Linked DNA regions of Homo sapiens: region 2 is linked to region 1. The links come from fine-mapping of genetic effects on gene expression. Tissue or cell type: whole blood. Region 1 holds a variant in brackets; the other region holds the start of a gene. All regions are shown on one strand. Distances are from middle to middle.

Region 1 (8,264 bases):
AGTGCGCCATCACGCCTGGCTAATTTTTGTATTTTTAGTAGAGATGGGGTTTCAGCATGTTGGCCAGGCTGGTCTCAAACTCCTGACCTCAGATGATCTGCCCGCCTCAGCCTCCCAAAGTGCTGGGATTACAGGCATGATCCAGCACACCCAGCCTCAACTGAACATTTTACAAATTGAGTATGCCTTATTCAAAATGCTTGGAACCAGAAGTGCTTTGGATTTCAAATCTGTTCTGATTTTGTTTTGTTTTGTTTTGTTTTGAGATGGGAGTCTCACTCTGTCACCCAGGCTGGAGTGCAGTGGCATGATCTCGGCTCACTGCAAGCTCCACCTCCTGGGTTCACGCCATTCTCCTGCCTCAGCCTCCCGAGTAGCTGGGACTACAGGCACCCGCCACCGTGCCCAGCTAGTTTTTTGTATTTTTAGTAGAGACGGGGGTTTCACCGTGTTAGCCAGGATGGTCTCGATCTCCTGACCTCGTGATCTGCCTGCCTCGGCCTCCCAAAGTGCTGGGATTACAGACGTGAGCCACCGGGCCTGGCCAAATCTGTTCAGATTTTGGAATATTTGCATATACTACCTGGTTTAGCATCCCTAATCTGAAAATCCAAAATCTGAAATGCTCCAAAAAGCATTTCCTTTGAGCATCCTATTGGTGCTCAAAAATTTTCAGATTTTGGAGCATTCTGGATTTTGAGTTTTCAGATCAGGATGCTCAACCTATATTTGTGTAATTTTTCTTTTTCAGTGCCTGTTATCTAAGGTTGTAGAAAAAGACCTTCTCTATTGCCTCTTAAAAATGCAATCTCTAGCTTCCCTAAAAAATGGAAGGAATCAGAATGTTGAAAAGATACTAAAGAAATCAGCAAAAATATATATTTTTTTAATCCACACTTTTCAACTGGTAAACTTGTGTTTTTCAAGTTACTTCCTGGTGTATTGTTTTTCTCCCAGTTCTATTTGGATGACCTTTAGACTCTTATGAAAGAAATGACTGAGATAGGCTGGGTGCAGTGGCTCATGCCTGTAATCCCAGCACTTTGGGAGGTTGAGGCAGGTGGATCACATGAGGTCAGGAGTTCGAGACCAGCCTGGCCAACATGGTGAAACCCCGTTTCTACTAAAAATACAAAAATTTTAGCTGGGCATGGTGGCAGGTGCCTGTAATCCCAGCTACTCAGGAGGCTGAGACAGGAGAATCACTGGAACCCAGGAGGTGGAGGTTGCAGTGAGCCGAGATCGCACCATTGCACTCCAACTTGGGCAACAAGAGTGAAACTCCATCTCAAAAAAAAAAGAAAAAAAAAAAAGAAAAGTAGGAAATAACTGAGATAGTAGGTTAAATAAGGTCACTAAGTTCTTTTTTCTTTCTTTTTTTTTTTTTTTTTTTGGAGGGGGTACAGAGTCTCACTCCAACCTCTACCTCCCAGATTCAAGTGATTCTCATACCTCAGCCCCCCGAGTAGCTAAGATTACAGGTGTGTGACACCACACCTAGCTAAATTTTGTATTTTTAGTAGAGATGGGGTTTCACCATGTTGCCCATGCTGGTCTCGAACTCCTGACCTCAGGTGATCTACCCACCTCAGCCTCCCAAAGTGCTGGGATTACAGGCGTGAGCCACTGCATCCAGCCCCACTGACTTCTTTTCTGAAAAAATAAATATCTATTGCCCATGGAAAAATTAATCAAAATCAGAATATGAGTCAAATATGTCAAATTCCATTACGGTGAACTTCACAAGTTATTCCAAATTCTACAGTCATAGATGTTGTAAATTGGTCATTAGTTAAAAAATGAATTTGGGGTTATTCAAAGATACTTAATGTAGGCCAGGCGTGGTGGCTCACGCCTGTAATCCCAGCACTCTGGGAGGCCGAGGCAGGCGGATCACAAGGTCAGGAGTTCAAGACCAGCCTGGCCAGCACAGTGAAACCCCGTCACTACTAAAAATACAAAAAGTTAGCCGGGCATAGTGGCGTGCACCTGTAATCCCAGCTACATGGGAGGCTGAGTCAGGAGAATTGCTTGAACCCGGGAGGCGGAGGCTGCAGTGAGCAGAAATTGCACCACTGCACTCCAGCCTGGGTGATAGAGCGAGACTGTGTCTTACAAAAAAAAAAAAAAAAGACACTTAATGTAAAAACAACTTGTAGGCCAGGCACAGTGGCTCACGCCTGTAATCTCAGCACATTGAGAGGCCAAGGTGGGCACATCACCTGAGGTCGGGGGTTCGAGACCACCCTGAGCAACACAGAGAAACCCCGTCTCTATTAAAAATACTAAATTAGCCGGGCATGGTGACGCATGCCTGTAATCCCAGCTACTCAGGAAGCTGAGGCAGGAGAATCGCCTGAACCCAGGAGGCGGAGGTTGTGGTGAGCTGCGATAGTGCCATTGCACTCCAGCCTGGGCAACAAGAACAAAATTCCATCTCAAAAAAAAAAAACAAAAAAACAAAAAAACAAACAAACAAAAAAAAACACTTGTAATAGGACTAAACCTAGTACATAAATATTCCCAAAAAAGGACAACTAGATAATGCTCCCCCAAACTATGACTCCCAAATCCTCATCATTCTTGAGCTTTTCTTTGTAATACATACTTGAATATAAATGTTTTCCTTCTCAACCATTAAGAGTAAAAAGATCCTCCAAAGAAATGCCTTAGTTGTGATAACCCTGCAGATTTAAGCGCCCTCCTGGATGCACAGCCCCAGAGCCCCAGGGCCACAGGCTCTAGTGTAGGAACCCCTGATGCACTTCAAACTCCTCTCCCTGGTAGTTAAGGCCTTTTGTGACTCCCACTCCATTCCAAGGTATTAATTTCCATTTAGCCGTACCACCCATCATCACAAAGAATTATTTGTAGTTCCCAAAAGTGCCACAGTGTCTCAAATTTCTGTGTCTTTACACAGTAAATGTCTCATTGACTTGCCTTCCTTTCTCCTCCTCATATGTCACCAAACTCGAGTTCACCTTTGAGACATGTCGCCTGGATGCTGCCCTCCTCTGTGCTCCTTTTATCTTGCACACTTGCAAATACCTTTACTGGAATATCCAACACCTTCTCTCTCTAGCTGATTATTTTCATGCTTTGCTCCCCTACTAGTTGTAGACTCCCTCAGAGTGTGGATGGTATCTGATTCATTTTAGTATTTCCAGATGTATCTTGCACATGTACCTGTACTGGTCAAGTAAACAAGCGACAGCCAACAGTTTCAATTTGTCTCTTAAGAGAGCTAAAATTTAAAAAAAAGGAGTGCTCAATCTCTGACATTCATCCTCCTCTTCTATTGTAGAGGATACCTAAAGCCATGTCTTTCAAATTGTAAATTACAACACAATGCTAATAGTGAAATAAAATTAGCAAGTAATAAGCAGCAAGTGTAAAAAAAGAAAATACAACAGAGTAGACCACAATAAAATTGAAAATATCAGCCGGGTGTGGTGGCTCATGCCTGTAATCCCAGCACTTTGGGAGGCTGAGGCAGGTGGATCACCTGAGGTCAGGAGTTCGAGACCAGCCTGACCAACATGGTGAAACCCCGTCTCTACTAAAAATACAAAAAACTACTGGACGTGGTGGTGGGTGCCTACAACCCCAGCTACTCAGGAGGCTGAGGCATAAGAATCACTTGAACCCAGGAGGCAGAGGTTGCAGTGAGCCAAGATCGCCCCATTGCACTTCAGCCTGGGCAACAGGAGCAAAACTCCATCTCAGAAAAAAAAAAAAAAAAAAAGGAAAGAAAGAAAAATCAGAGTGCACAATACATAGTAAGAATGTTTGCTTCACGAATTTTGTTTTGCCTATAGACACATATACACATATGTGTTTACTAGGTCAAGATGTAAAATTTCTTACTATGAGTCATGGTCCAAAGTGTGAAGGCCACTGGAAAAGGAAACGATTCTTAAGAGAACAAAAGCAAGAAGTATCTGAAACACTTCTTTTCCATGTTAAAGACAAGCTGTGTTTTTTTTCTAGCCAACCGAATATCAGAAAAGCCAGTGATTTCATTTCAAAAATGTATTTTAAGAAAAGAAACTCTCATTACTTCTTACATATGCATGAAAGAGGACACATTTCACTCATAAAGGAACTACAACTTTTCTAAAGGGCAGTTTGGCAATATCTCTTAAAATTACAAAGGCATTTGGCTTTGGACTTAGCAATTATACCTCTTGCAATTTAGGCTACACACTATCTGATGTACAGAAAATGTTACTTACTGCAGGTGTTTAGTTTGGTTTTGGTAATAACAAAAGGTTGGAAACAACCCAAATGCTCACCAACTGGAAAATGGTTACACAAATCATTCCTTACTTATGGTTTATAAAAGTGGCATATTAGCCATAAAAAAATAAGAAGAAATCTCTTTAGACTCTGTTAAGAAAATATCTCCAGGATATTTGCTTCATTTGAGAACATCAAGATACAGAATAGTGTTTATAGCATCCTAAATTTGTGGTTAAAATGTAGGAAAAAGATATGCCCCCAAAACTATTAACACTAGTTGCCTGTGAGGATGGGAAATGCCAGAAAGAACCTACAATCTGAATTATTTCTTCCAAGATGCTAAAATAGGTAAATACATTTAGTAAAGAATAATGAGCAGGAAAAGAAGGTAGAGTGGTATCAATGGCCTGCACACCATTTTTTACTCTGTTTTTAGTAACATCACATTGATTTCCACTTGAGGAAGTACCTCTTGCCTGTTCTCAGTCCATGTCTGAGCGATGATGACCACAGTTCCTCATTCCTCAGGCTGACCATGCATAGCAGAGCAACCTCATTTCTACAGTTTTTGGTTAATGACTGAACACATAACCAGGCAGGGTCAGTTAATGAGTATCCTCTCTGGGACCTGCTGGCACCATTAATATTGTTTTTGCTGGCATGACTTGAGAGGCACTCTCTCACTGGAGAGTTAAGAACAGCTAGAGTGTTGACCTGTAACTCTTGCTAGTACTCGCCTTTTGCCACACCTAGAGACAGCCTGCCTGAGAATGTACGCAGACATGAAGAAAGCAAAACCAAAAGGAGAGGCAGCTTCCTGCTAACATTGTGGCTGAACCTAACA[T/C]GCCCTTTCCGCAGTGGCTCTGCAGGTACCAGGATCCCCTCCAGGGCTTGCACGACGGCTGCGCTCTGCCCCCAGAGTTTCTCTTGCAGCAGATCTGGTGTGGGGCTGGATAATTTGCTGTGCTAACAACTTCTCCCAAGTGATGGGGATGTGGCTGGTCTGGAAGCCACTTTTGGAGAACCACTGCCCTAGATTTTTACTTAAGCCAAGTTGAATTTTATTTTTATCCTATACATGTTTGGGAGTTCTGCATAATCCAGGAAATGAGCAGGGTACTAAAATTTGCATAAAGGAGGCATGCTGTCTGTGTACAGAGTGGCTAATCAGAGGCACAAAACCTTAGAAACTTTTGGAGAAAAAATCCTGGATTATCTGTTAGGAGGAACAACTTAGCAGTCCTGTGTAAAATCAAGTAGCTATATTAATGGTATTCAAATCTAAATTAACACAGATTAGTTTCATTTCTATACTTTAACAAATAAGCTATTCCTAGACAGTGATGGCCAGTTTAGTCACATCGGGATTAGAGTTGCCCAAGAAAACACAAGACATCCAGTTTAATCTGAACATCAGACAAAAAACAAATACTATTTTCCCTTTCCTTGGTAAATCTGGCAGTCCGCATCTGGATGAAAATGTTTTAGAAGTACTTTGAATTTTAAGTTCAAATAAAATAAAATGTTAACTGTTAGAATCACAGCTCATTAAAGGTATTAATGATCTTGATTTAAGAAATGTTCCCTAACATGCTTCCCCCAATCAGAAGACAAAACTCAAAGACTTAGAAAGAAAACTATATAAAAACGCTTACACAGCTAATGGAAATCCAGCTTTAGTAGGGACAATGATATTGACGATAGATCCTCCATGCTCTTTCATCCAGGAGCTGTAAACTGCAGGATAGAGGCAAACTCAATCATTAAATTTTTAAAGTATCCTGGCCCTCCTGATACCTTGTTTCAGCACACTGCCTGTTTGATATGTTTTACACGTCCATTTACATTTCCTTATAAAAAGCCTGACTGAGGTAAAATTTATACATCATAAAATTCATCTACTTTAAGTGTGCAATGTAATGACTTTTAATAAATATACGGAGTTATGCAACCATTACCACAATCCAGCTTGAGAACCTTTCCATCACCCCAAAAAGTTCCTTCACACCCATCTGCAGCTTAACCCATCCCCAGGTAAACACTCATCTTTCTGTTTCTCTAGATTTGCCTTTACCTTTTCGAAAATCTAATGTAAAGTGAATCACACAATACGTGGTCTTTTGTGTCTAACTTCTTCCACTTAGAATCATGTTTGTGAGGTTCATCCACGTTGTAATGTGTTAATAGTTCCTTTTTGATTGCCGAGTAGTATTCCATTATGTGGATATGCCATGTTTTATTTATCCACTTATCAGCTGATAAACATTTGGATAGTTCCACTTTGGAGCAATTATGAATACAAATCTTTGTGTGGTCATATGTTAACTCTGTTTAGCTTTTAAAGAAACTGCCAAATGGTTTTCCAAAGTGTCCCTCCCCATTTTACATTGTTCTCAGAAATGCATGGGGGATGTAGTTTCTACACGCCACTGCTGTCTGATTTTTTGATAATAGCCATCTAGTGGGTGTGAAGTGGTATCACACTGGAGTTTTTATTTGCATTTCCCTAATGACTATAATCATGTTGATCTATATATCTAGCCTATGTCAGTACCACACTGTCTTAAAATCAAGAAATAGCTTTGCAATCAAGAAGCATTAAGTCCTCCAACTTTCTTCTTTTGCAAAATTGTTTTGGCTATTCTGGGCCCTCTGCATCTCCATATGTAGTTTAGGATCAGTTTGTTAATTTCTACAAAAATTGACAGGGATTGCTCTGAATCTACAGATCAATTTGGGAAGAACTAACACATTAACAATATTGGACCTTCTAACCCATAAACACTGAATATTTTTACATTATTTAAATCTTCTTTGATTTCTCTCAGCAATGTCTGGCAGTTTGTGGCATACAAGTCTTACACTTTTTTGTTAACCTCATTGTTAAATATTTTATTATTTATATATGCTTGAAAACATATATGAAAAATATATGAAAACATATAAAACCATTTGATTTTAGCACAAGAAAGGAGAATAACCATTTAAATTATTCTACACACACCTTCCGCTTCTGGATAAATACCACCATATACATATATTTATTTATTTCCTAGTTCTGAAAATGTCTACAAGTAATGATAACCCAGTAGTAGTGAACACATGTAGTACCCAAATCTCGCCTTCTAAAAATCATTCCCGGCTAGGAGTGGTGGCTCACACCCGTAATCCCAGCACTTTGGCAGGTCAAGGTGAGAGGATCACTTAAGGCCAGGAGTTCAAGACCAGCCTGGGCAACAGAGAAAAACTCTGTCTCTATGAAAAATTAAAAAATTAGCCTGGCATGGTGTCATGTGCCTATAGTAGCAGCTGCTCGGTAGGCTGAAGCGGGGAGGATTGCTTGACCCCAGGAGTTCAAGGTTGCAGTGGGCTATGCAGCCTTGAACCACTACTCTCCAGCCTGGGTGACAGAGCAAGACTCTCTCTCCAAAAAGTAAATAAATAAATAAGCAAACAATAATTATTATTACCTACTAAAGGGAACTAGGTCTTCTTGGAGAAACAGGTCTGAGCCATTTCAAAAAGACACAGAAGCCAGATTAGCTGGTCAACTAGAACATCAGAGAGAAAATGACAATAATGGGTTAGAAATACTGAATAAAAATAAATTCCATTCATCAATAGTAAGGCTTAGGAGGTGAGAAAAAAAGGAAAAACTCATCTTTATAAAAGAATGCCAATTAATAAATAAATAAGGCATAAATTTTTAAAATCATCATTTTGCATCTTCCAATTCTGAAACTGAATCGGGCAAGAATCAAAAATGGAATGAGCCGGGAGCAGTGCCTCACACCTATATCCCAGCACTTTGAGAGGCAGAGGCGGATGGATGGCTTCAGCCCAGGAGTTTGAGACCAGCCTCGGCAACAAGGGGAGACCCCGGCTCTACCAAAAAAAAAAAAAAAAAAAAAAAAAAATTAGCTGAGCATGGTGGTTAGTAGCCTAGTATGCACCTGTACCTCCAGCTACTCAGGAGGTGGAAGAATCGATTGAGCCCAGGGGGTGGAGGCTGCAGTGAGCCA
Region 2 (8,000 bases), 25 kb after region 1:
CCCAGCTACTCAGGAGGCTGAGGCAGAAGAATCGCTTGAACCTGGGAGGCAGAGGTTGCAGTGAGCCAAGATCGTGCCACTGTACTCCAGCCTGGGCTACAGAGCAAGACTCCGTCTCAAAAAAAAAAAAAAAAAAAATATGGATTATACATGCAAAAATGGACTGGAAGGAAGTTTGTAAGATTTTTAGCCATTTTTCTGAAAATAATGTTAATTATGAGTAATTAAAATTGTCTTCGTCTTTTAAATATTTTTTAATGAACATCTAAATTATCTTTGGTTACCATCTGGCATAGTATGAAGTAAAAAAGAAAACACCTGTATTTTTCGTTAAAAAAAAAAAAAAGCAAAAATATCATCATTTTAAAAACCATGCCTCAAAGTTCATGCCAAAAAGACATAGTTCACACCAAAAAACCAAAACCAAAAACAAAAAACAGTGGCCTTCTGACTAGAAAGAAAACTGGAGGCTAGGCGCGGGGCCTCCATGCCTGTAATCCTAGCACTTAGGGAGGCTGAGGCGGGCAGATCACTGGAGGTCCGAGTTCAAGACCAGCCTGGCCAACATGCCAAAACCCCATCTCTAGTAAAAATATGACAATGTCGTGGAAATAGCCATTGATTCTGGCATAAAAAAATAAAGAGGAAAAAGTAATTATAAAAATGATTTTTATGGCCAGGCCCGGTGGCTCACAGCACTTTGGGAGGTCAAGGGGGATGGATCATAAGGTCAGGAGTTCAAGACCAGCCTGGCCAACGTGGTAAAACCCCGTCTCTATTAAAAATACTGCTCAGGAGGCTGAGGCAGAGAATTGCTTGAACCTGGGAGGTGGAGGTTGCAGTGAGCCGAGATTGCGCCACTGTACTCCAGCCTGGGCGACAGAGCGAAACTCCATCTCAAAAAAAAAAAAAAAGAAAAAGATTTTTAATATTCTTTCACTGAAGGAAATCCATTTCCAATACAACAAAATAATTGTGTATATATATTTTTAAGTATATGATGTCTTTTTCTCAAAAGACACGCCACCACTTTCATCAGAATCTCAGACAGATTCATGTCTTCCAAAAGATTACAAGACCAATGTCCTAATGTTTTAGTTTGTGGTAAGAAAAATATAGTCTATCACCTTATTCCAGGGGTGTAGTTTTTGGCCAATGCATATTTATGCAACAGGATGAAAGTTCAAATAGCACACTTATGCAACAGGATGAAAGTTCAAATAGCACACTTATGCAACAGGATGAAAGTTCAAATACATAAAAATCTATTAAAAATCCTTCAAAGTGGACTAGGGTCCTACGAATCTGCTGAGAAGCCTAGTATCTGACCTATGCATGAATTGATAACTGATTCTGATTTTCTTACAGATATTCCTGAAAGAGGATAGAGCTTGGTGTTGAGAATAAACTGGGCAGTAATGGTGATGAGGTTACATCATGGCCTTACTAGGAAATGTTTTTGCTTTTTTTTTTTTTTTTAACTAAAAACATAGATTTTTTTTTTTTAGTTCATACTGTGCCAGATGTTGGAAACACAGTCGTAACCAAAGATAATTTAGATGTTCATTAAAAAATATTTAAAAGACGAAGACAATTTTAATTACTCATAATTAACATTATTTTCAGAAAAATGGCTAAAAATCTTATAAACTTCCTTCCAGTCCATTTTTGCATATGTAATACTTTTTTTTTTTTTTGATACTGAGTCTTGCTCTGTCGCCCAGGCTGGAGTGCAGCGGCACGATCTTGGCTCACTGAAACCTCTGCCTCCCGGGTTCACGCCATTCTCCTGCCTCAGCCTCCTGAGTAGCTGGGATTACAGGCACACGCCACCATGCCTGGCTAATTTTTGTATTCTTAGTAGAGACGAGGTTTCACCATGTTTTCCCAGGCTAGTCTCGAACTCTTGACCTTGTGCTCTGCCCGCCTCGGCCTCCCAAAGTGCTGGGATTACAGGCATGAGCCACCGTGCCCGGCCCTGCATGTATATATTTTATTAAAAGTAAAATTGGGCCGGGCACGGTGGCTTACGCCTGTAATCCCAGTACTTTGGGAGGCCGAGGCGGGCGGATCACCTGAGGTCGGGAGTTGGAGACCAGCCTGACCAACATATAGAAACCCCATCTCTACTAAAAATACAAAATTAGCCTAGCAAGGTAGTGCGTGCCTGTAATCCCAACTACTCGGGAGGCTGAGGCAGGAGAATCGCTTGAACCCAGGAGGCGGAGGTTGCAGTGAGCCAAGATGGCGCCACTGCACTCCAGCCTGGGCAACAAGAGCGAAACTCCATCTCAAAAAAAAAAAAAAAGTAAAATTGGAATGCTATTAGGTTTAGAATTCTACTTTTCCCAATAATATGGTATGCATTTCTCCAAGTAAGTCTTCAATAGCAAGATATTTATTTATTTATTGAGATGGAATCTCGCTCTGTTGCCCAGGCTGGAGTGCAGTGGCTTGACGTCAGCTCATTGCAACCTCTGCCTCCCAGGTTCAAGCGATTCTTGCGCCTCAACCTCCCAAGTAGCTGGGACTACAGGTGTACGCCACCATGCCTGGTTTGTATTTTTAGTAGAAATGGAGTTTCACCATGTTGGCCAGGCTGGTCTCAAACTCCTGACCTCAGGTTATCTGCCCGCCTCGGCCTCTCAAAGTGCTGGAATTACAGGCGTGAGCCACTGCGCCAGGACCAATAGCAAGATATTTAAACGGAAGCATTATATTTCATTGTTATTGATTTAACTATTTTCCTTATATTGGATTTTTAGGTAATTTCCATTTTTTCACTACTCAAGACTACATCCTTGCATGAAAATCTTTGCTTGACTCCGTTTCCTTAAATTCCTGAAAAAGGAATTACTGTCATAGAGCATAAACATTGTGAAGGTTTTTGGATCTTTTTTTCCAAATTGCCTTCCAGAAAGTTTGTAATAATTTACATTCCTGCCTTCTCATTCCTGCATCAACACTTTAATTTTTCCCAACATTTCAAAATTTTGTTAGAAAAGTTAAATCTTACTGTTTCATATTTTATTACCAATAAAGTTGATTATTTTTTCATATGTTTCTTGCCTGTCTGTAGTTCTTCTTTTGGAACGCTTAGTCCATACCATTAGTCTAATTTTTCTATCAGTGTGTTGGATTTTTTCTTTATTTGTAAGAGCTCTTTATGTATAAGGCTGTTGGCCGAATCTAGTGGCTCAGCCTGTAATCCCAAAACTTTAGGACTCAGAGGCAAGGCAGGAGGATCCCTTGAACCCAGGTGTTCGAGACCAGCGTAGGCAACAGAGTGAGACCCTATCTCAAAACCAACAAACAATTTATCTTATGTTGCAAATATTTTTCTTCATATGCCTTTAAACTTTATATATTTTTTTAATTCAATGAGGATTTACACTTTCATACAGGTAGATTGATTTATGTTCTCCTTTGTGGTTTATTCCCTCACTTATGTGTTTACAAAGGCCTTCCTTCACCCAAGTTAAGGTAAATATTCAGCATATTTCCTTGCTGTGGTTAAGAGATGTGAGAAGATACTATGAGAGACTCACTATGTTCACAACTTTTTCCAGTTAAATGAAGTCTTCCCACGTTTCCTAATCACTCACATTAAGCATATAGAATGGATTAATTTTAAATCTGAATATAAAACTAATTGCACAGCATGTTTCACTGCTCTTCTTACTGCCTACCTGGGGCACAGTCTCTTTGGCCTGAGTGGTCTCTTCAGTTTTTAACGAGTGGCTCCACAATTCCTTAGGAAGAGCTGCTCTCTTCTGTCTCCCTGGTGGTCGTAATTTCGCCCACACCTGCCCCGTCTTTGCTCTGCAGCTCCACACTCCCTCAGCCCCGCCGAGAGCTCCTGGCTCCCGTCTCCAGGTTACCCCAGGTCACCACAGCCACCTCTCTGCACCAGCGGCCCGCTCACGTACCCAGCTCCAGGAGCTCCTTCACGATGGCTTTTCCGATGCCCGTGGCCCCGCCGGTGACGATGGCCACTTGGCCCTGCAGCAAACCAGGCGCCAGGTAGCTCCTGCCCTTAGCCCAGGAGGCCATCCCTGCAGCGGGGTGCCAGAGCAGCTGAGCGCAGGCCCTTCTGGGTCTCAGGGACATTCGAGGCGGGCGGGCGGACAGGGCGGTGCTCGAGCCCACGTGACCACCAGAACCCCGCACCCTCCCCGGCCCGGCCCCGCCCCGCCCGCCGGCCGCGGCAAAGCCGCATCCTCCCGGAGCAGAACCGCTCCCCGCCGGCTGTCCGCAACCTCCGCCAGCGTCGGTCCCTGGGCAGGTGTGGGTGAGACTGCTCGTTCGTTTCTTTAAATTTCGATGCCATTGGGGAGGGTGGAAGGGAAATGCAAAAAAAAAAAAAGAAGAAGAAAGAAACAAGCAGGGTGTGCTCTATTTCAAAAATTCAATCCTCAGGGCTGAAGCTCTCACGATTAATTAAAATTAAATCTCCAGTGCAGCTGGAAAAAGAAAGGCTGCTGCTCGGCGCCCTCGCTGCGCCCGCCTGCCGGGGTCGGACGTCGGCGATGCTGTGGCTCCAGGTGCTGTGTGCCGCTGGCTGGGAAGGGGAGAAAGGGCAGGCTTAGCTGAGGGGGAGAAATGCGGCTTTCAGATCCTTTCATCCTTCGGGAGGGAGCCCGGGAAAGAGAGTGAAGGGGAAGAGGAGATGCGGTTGCAGTTTTCCACAGAACCAAGAGAATAAACGATTTGAAAAAATAAACTCAGGCCCACCTCCGTCTCACCTCCCACTCCCCACCCAAGAATCAAGGGGAAAGATCATCTTTACCAGGTTTGAGACCTGATCCATTTCAGCTGAGCTGCATAGCGAGTCCAGAAGAGGATCTTTCCTTGAAGGGTGCACGCTTCCTGCAAGATGCATCTGTAGGTGTTTGAGATCATGTCCTGTAGTTCATTCCTTGTGCAGGAGGGTGAGCCCGCTGAGGATGGGGAAAATTTCTCGTCTGTGTTATGGTGCCCAGTAACAGTGATTTATTATTCAGATCTGCTCCTTATTTTTCATCTTGCTTCCCGCTCTGAACCCACCAGAGTGAGATTACACCTGGACTGGCCTACTGAGACTTCACCCTAAGAACTTGGTCGAATGTGCCAGTTGCTGTGGTCTTAACAATCCAGATGGGATGCTATTTCTAAGGCTGTTGTCAGAGTGTTGCATTTTCCCCGGACAGGTATTAAAATAATATAAAGGCAAATAAATGCCATCATCCTTTTGTTGGACCTACCACCTAGGATTCACAAAGCCAATTGGAAATGGGTCTGGTTGACAGAGGAATCAGACCATCACTTCCTCCACCAGGTCCCACCCACCAGCGAGGCTGCAGTTCTTGTTGGACAGCTACACTTCCCTGTTGCTCCATCCTCTTGTCCTTCTCTGATCTCTTTTTAGAATCACTTCTCCCTCTATCTTTGTTGCTGACAGATTCAAATCTACACTCGTTAAAGAAAGGAATAAATCTCCTGGTTACCATTTGCTAGATAGTTTATCCAGGAATCACTTAACTCTACTACTTAAGTCAATTCTGTAGTTAGGACCAAATTTTTAAAATTACAACGCCATCACCTCCTTTAAAACAAAGTAAATTCAAACAGGAAAGCTCAAAGTGTTGTTGCAGAAACATATAACTCCTCTTGGTTTGATCCCAATGACAAGGTGTTTTTTTTTAAGGAAAAGAAATATTGATTCAGTTCTGAGGGGTATCTTATTCAAGAGAAGTCCAGACTTTCTTTCTTGTGGGTGGGGACACTTTAAATTCTTTTAAATGATAACTTTATTGAAGATATAACTTAACATGATTTATGCCCTGGTCTGGACCTATAGATTCTTAGAGGTGTGCCAGGGTGGGTCAGTGGGAAGCTGGCTGTGCTGCAGCTTCCGTGTGGCTGCTGAGCGGACTGAGAGTGGGATTCTGATGTCTTCCAGTGAAACAGGGACTGGGGCCTGCAAACCGGTTATGCCTACTGAGGATGACAAGGTGCCATTCCTCAGCTGCAAGGAAGTTGCAGGATGAACAGTCAGAAGGCGATTTTTCATGATCCAGGCAGAACCTGCAATTAAGAGAGCTTTGGGGTCTCTTCAAGCGATCTTTTGTTTAAAATTAGGAGGCATGATCTCTTTGCCTCTGCCTCTGACCTCTGTCAGGGTTTGAAAGTCCACTAATCCGCTAAGTTCCAGGCCAAAAGGCCTGGAAGCAGAGCAATAGATCTGCTGCTTGGAAGCTCTTTGTTTTGAAATTTTAGTTCTGCCTCTGGTTGAGGCATCTCTTCCGAAGGCAACCACGCCATGCTGCACTGACCACTCCTTTGGTTGAATCAAATGCTGCTCTTCCCTGTGCTCTGCGTCACTGCCCTCTTTGTCCTGGGGAAAAAGGCATTCCTGTGGCCAAGGTCCTCCCACACCCCCGAACCTCTCCCCACAGCTCTGTCATACCCCATTAGCAATGACTGCCTTCAGCTTCCCACCCCTCCCCCACCCCATCTGCCTGGTAACTTTATTTTCTCCCCTCTGCAAAGCAGCTGCTAGCTCAGACTGACAGGGGCTTGTGGGATTCTCGACATTTAGACTCCCAGAATCTCAGTGCTGAGAGAATGTCAGTGAAGCATCTGGTCCTGCCCCTACCTTGAAGCAAAACTACCTAGCAATTGTGCCATAACAAGGCATATAAAGGAGCTTATTGATGTCTTTTTATTAAACTTCTCCTTAGTCTCAGGCTTTCACAAAAAATAAGCTACTCCTGAGTTGCTACCACTTCACCCAGTCACTTAAAAAGATTTATCGAGCATCTATTTGTTGGCCTACTTCTATGGTACCACTTCATAGGGCTTGAAGTCTAGTAGAAGAGCTATGCAATAAATAAGTAAAAGAAAAATAAATAATGACAAATGTTGGTAAGCCTTACACAGGAAACAAGCTGTTGTGATAAAGAATAATGAGAGGCAGAGCAGGGAGTCAAGTTTTTAGTTCGGGTGTCAAGAAGGGCTCAGAGGAGGAAACATTTGAACAAGGACTCAAAAAAACAAAAACGGGCACAGGAAGAGGCGGGGTGGAGCAGCAGAGCAGCAAGATAGACAGCAGTTAAGAAGACCTCAAGCATTTGGAAGCATTTGGTGCTCTTGAGGAAGAAATACACAGCCAGTGTGATTGGAGCATAGTACCCCTACTATGGTGGTACAGATGGGGTGGCAGGATGGGGAGGTCCTTAGGCCACATGGACTTCCACATGTATAACAGTAGGAAGTTACAGGAGGATTTTAAGCAGAAAACAGCCTGATTTTCTTTTTTATTTTTATTTATTTATTTGACATGGAGTCTGGCTCTGTATCCCAGGCTGGAGTGCAGTGGCAGCGATCTCGGCTCACTGCAGCCTCTGCCTCCCAGGTTCAAACAATTCTCCTGCCTCAGCCTTCCGAGAAGCTGAGACGACAGGTGCGCGCTGCCACGCCTGACCATCTGATTTTCTTTATGTTTTAAAAAGATGTTTCTGGCTGGGTGGCTCATGCCTGGAATCCCAGCACTTTGGGAGGTGAAACCCCATCTCTACTAAAAATACAAAAATTAGCCGGGTGTGGTGGCACACGCCTGTAATCTCATCTACTCGGTAGGAGAATCAGGTGGGGGAGGTGGGGGTTGCAGGAAGCTGAGATTGTGCCACTGCAGTCCAGCCTGGGTGACAGAGTGAGACTCTGTCTCAAAAAATTAAAAAAATTAAGTAAAAGATGTTGCTTACTGCTGAGTGAGGAATTGATTGGAAGGCAGCAAGAGTGGAAGCTGGAAGATAGGAGCATTTTTTTTAGAACCACAGTTAAGAGACAGTGGCCTCCTAGACCAGAGGGGAAGCAGTGGAGATGGGAAAGTTGGGTGGATGAATTTAAGAATTATCTGGGCCGGGAGCAGTGGCTCACGCCTGTAATCCCAGCACTTTGGGAGGCCAAGGCGGGCGGATCACCTGAGGTTGGGAGTTCGAGACCAGCCTGACCAACAT

What was found. PIP is the estimated chance that this variant, and not a neighbour inherited with it, causes the effect.
Region 2: it holds the start of PECR, and the variant in region 1 is fine-mapped to the expression of PECR in whole blood (TOPMed, PIP above 0.99).

What each region holds. Positions count from the first base shown.
Region 1 is chr2:216,052,998-216,061,261 of GRCh38, forward strand. It overlaps PECR (peroxisomal trans-2-enoyl-CoA reductase), which reads right to left. Exons shown (of 8, transcript NM_018441.6): 4 at 5,898-5,979. Among named protein-coding and RNA genes, the nearest start is that of PECR, 25 kb to the right of the region's middle. RefSeq lists enhancers at 4,951-5,130, 5,191-5,250. The variant T/C (reference allele first, on the strand shown) is at 5,087.
Region 2 is chr2:216,077,689-216,085,688 of GRCh38, forward strand. It overlaps PECR (peroxisomal trans-2-enoyl-CoA reductase), which reads right to left and starts at 4,121. Exons shown (of 8, transcript NM_018441.6): 1 at 3,930-4,121. The coding sequence starts at 4,053. TMEM169 (transmembrane protein 169) reads left to right here and starts at 4,231. Exons shown (of 3, transcript NM_001142311.2): 1 at 4,231-4,291. RefSeq lists enhancers at 3,723-3,802, 3,833-3,882, 7,007-7,076 and a silencer at 4,073-4,332.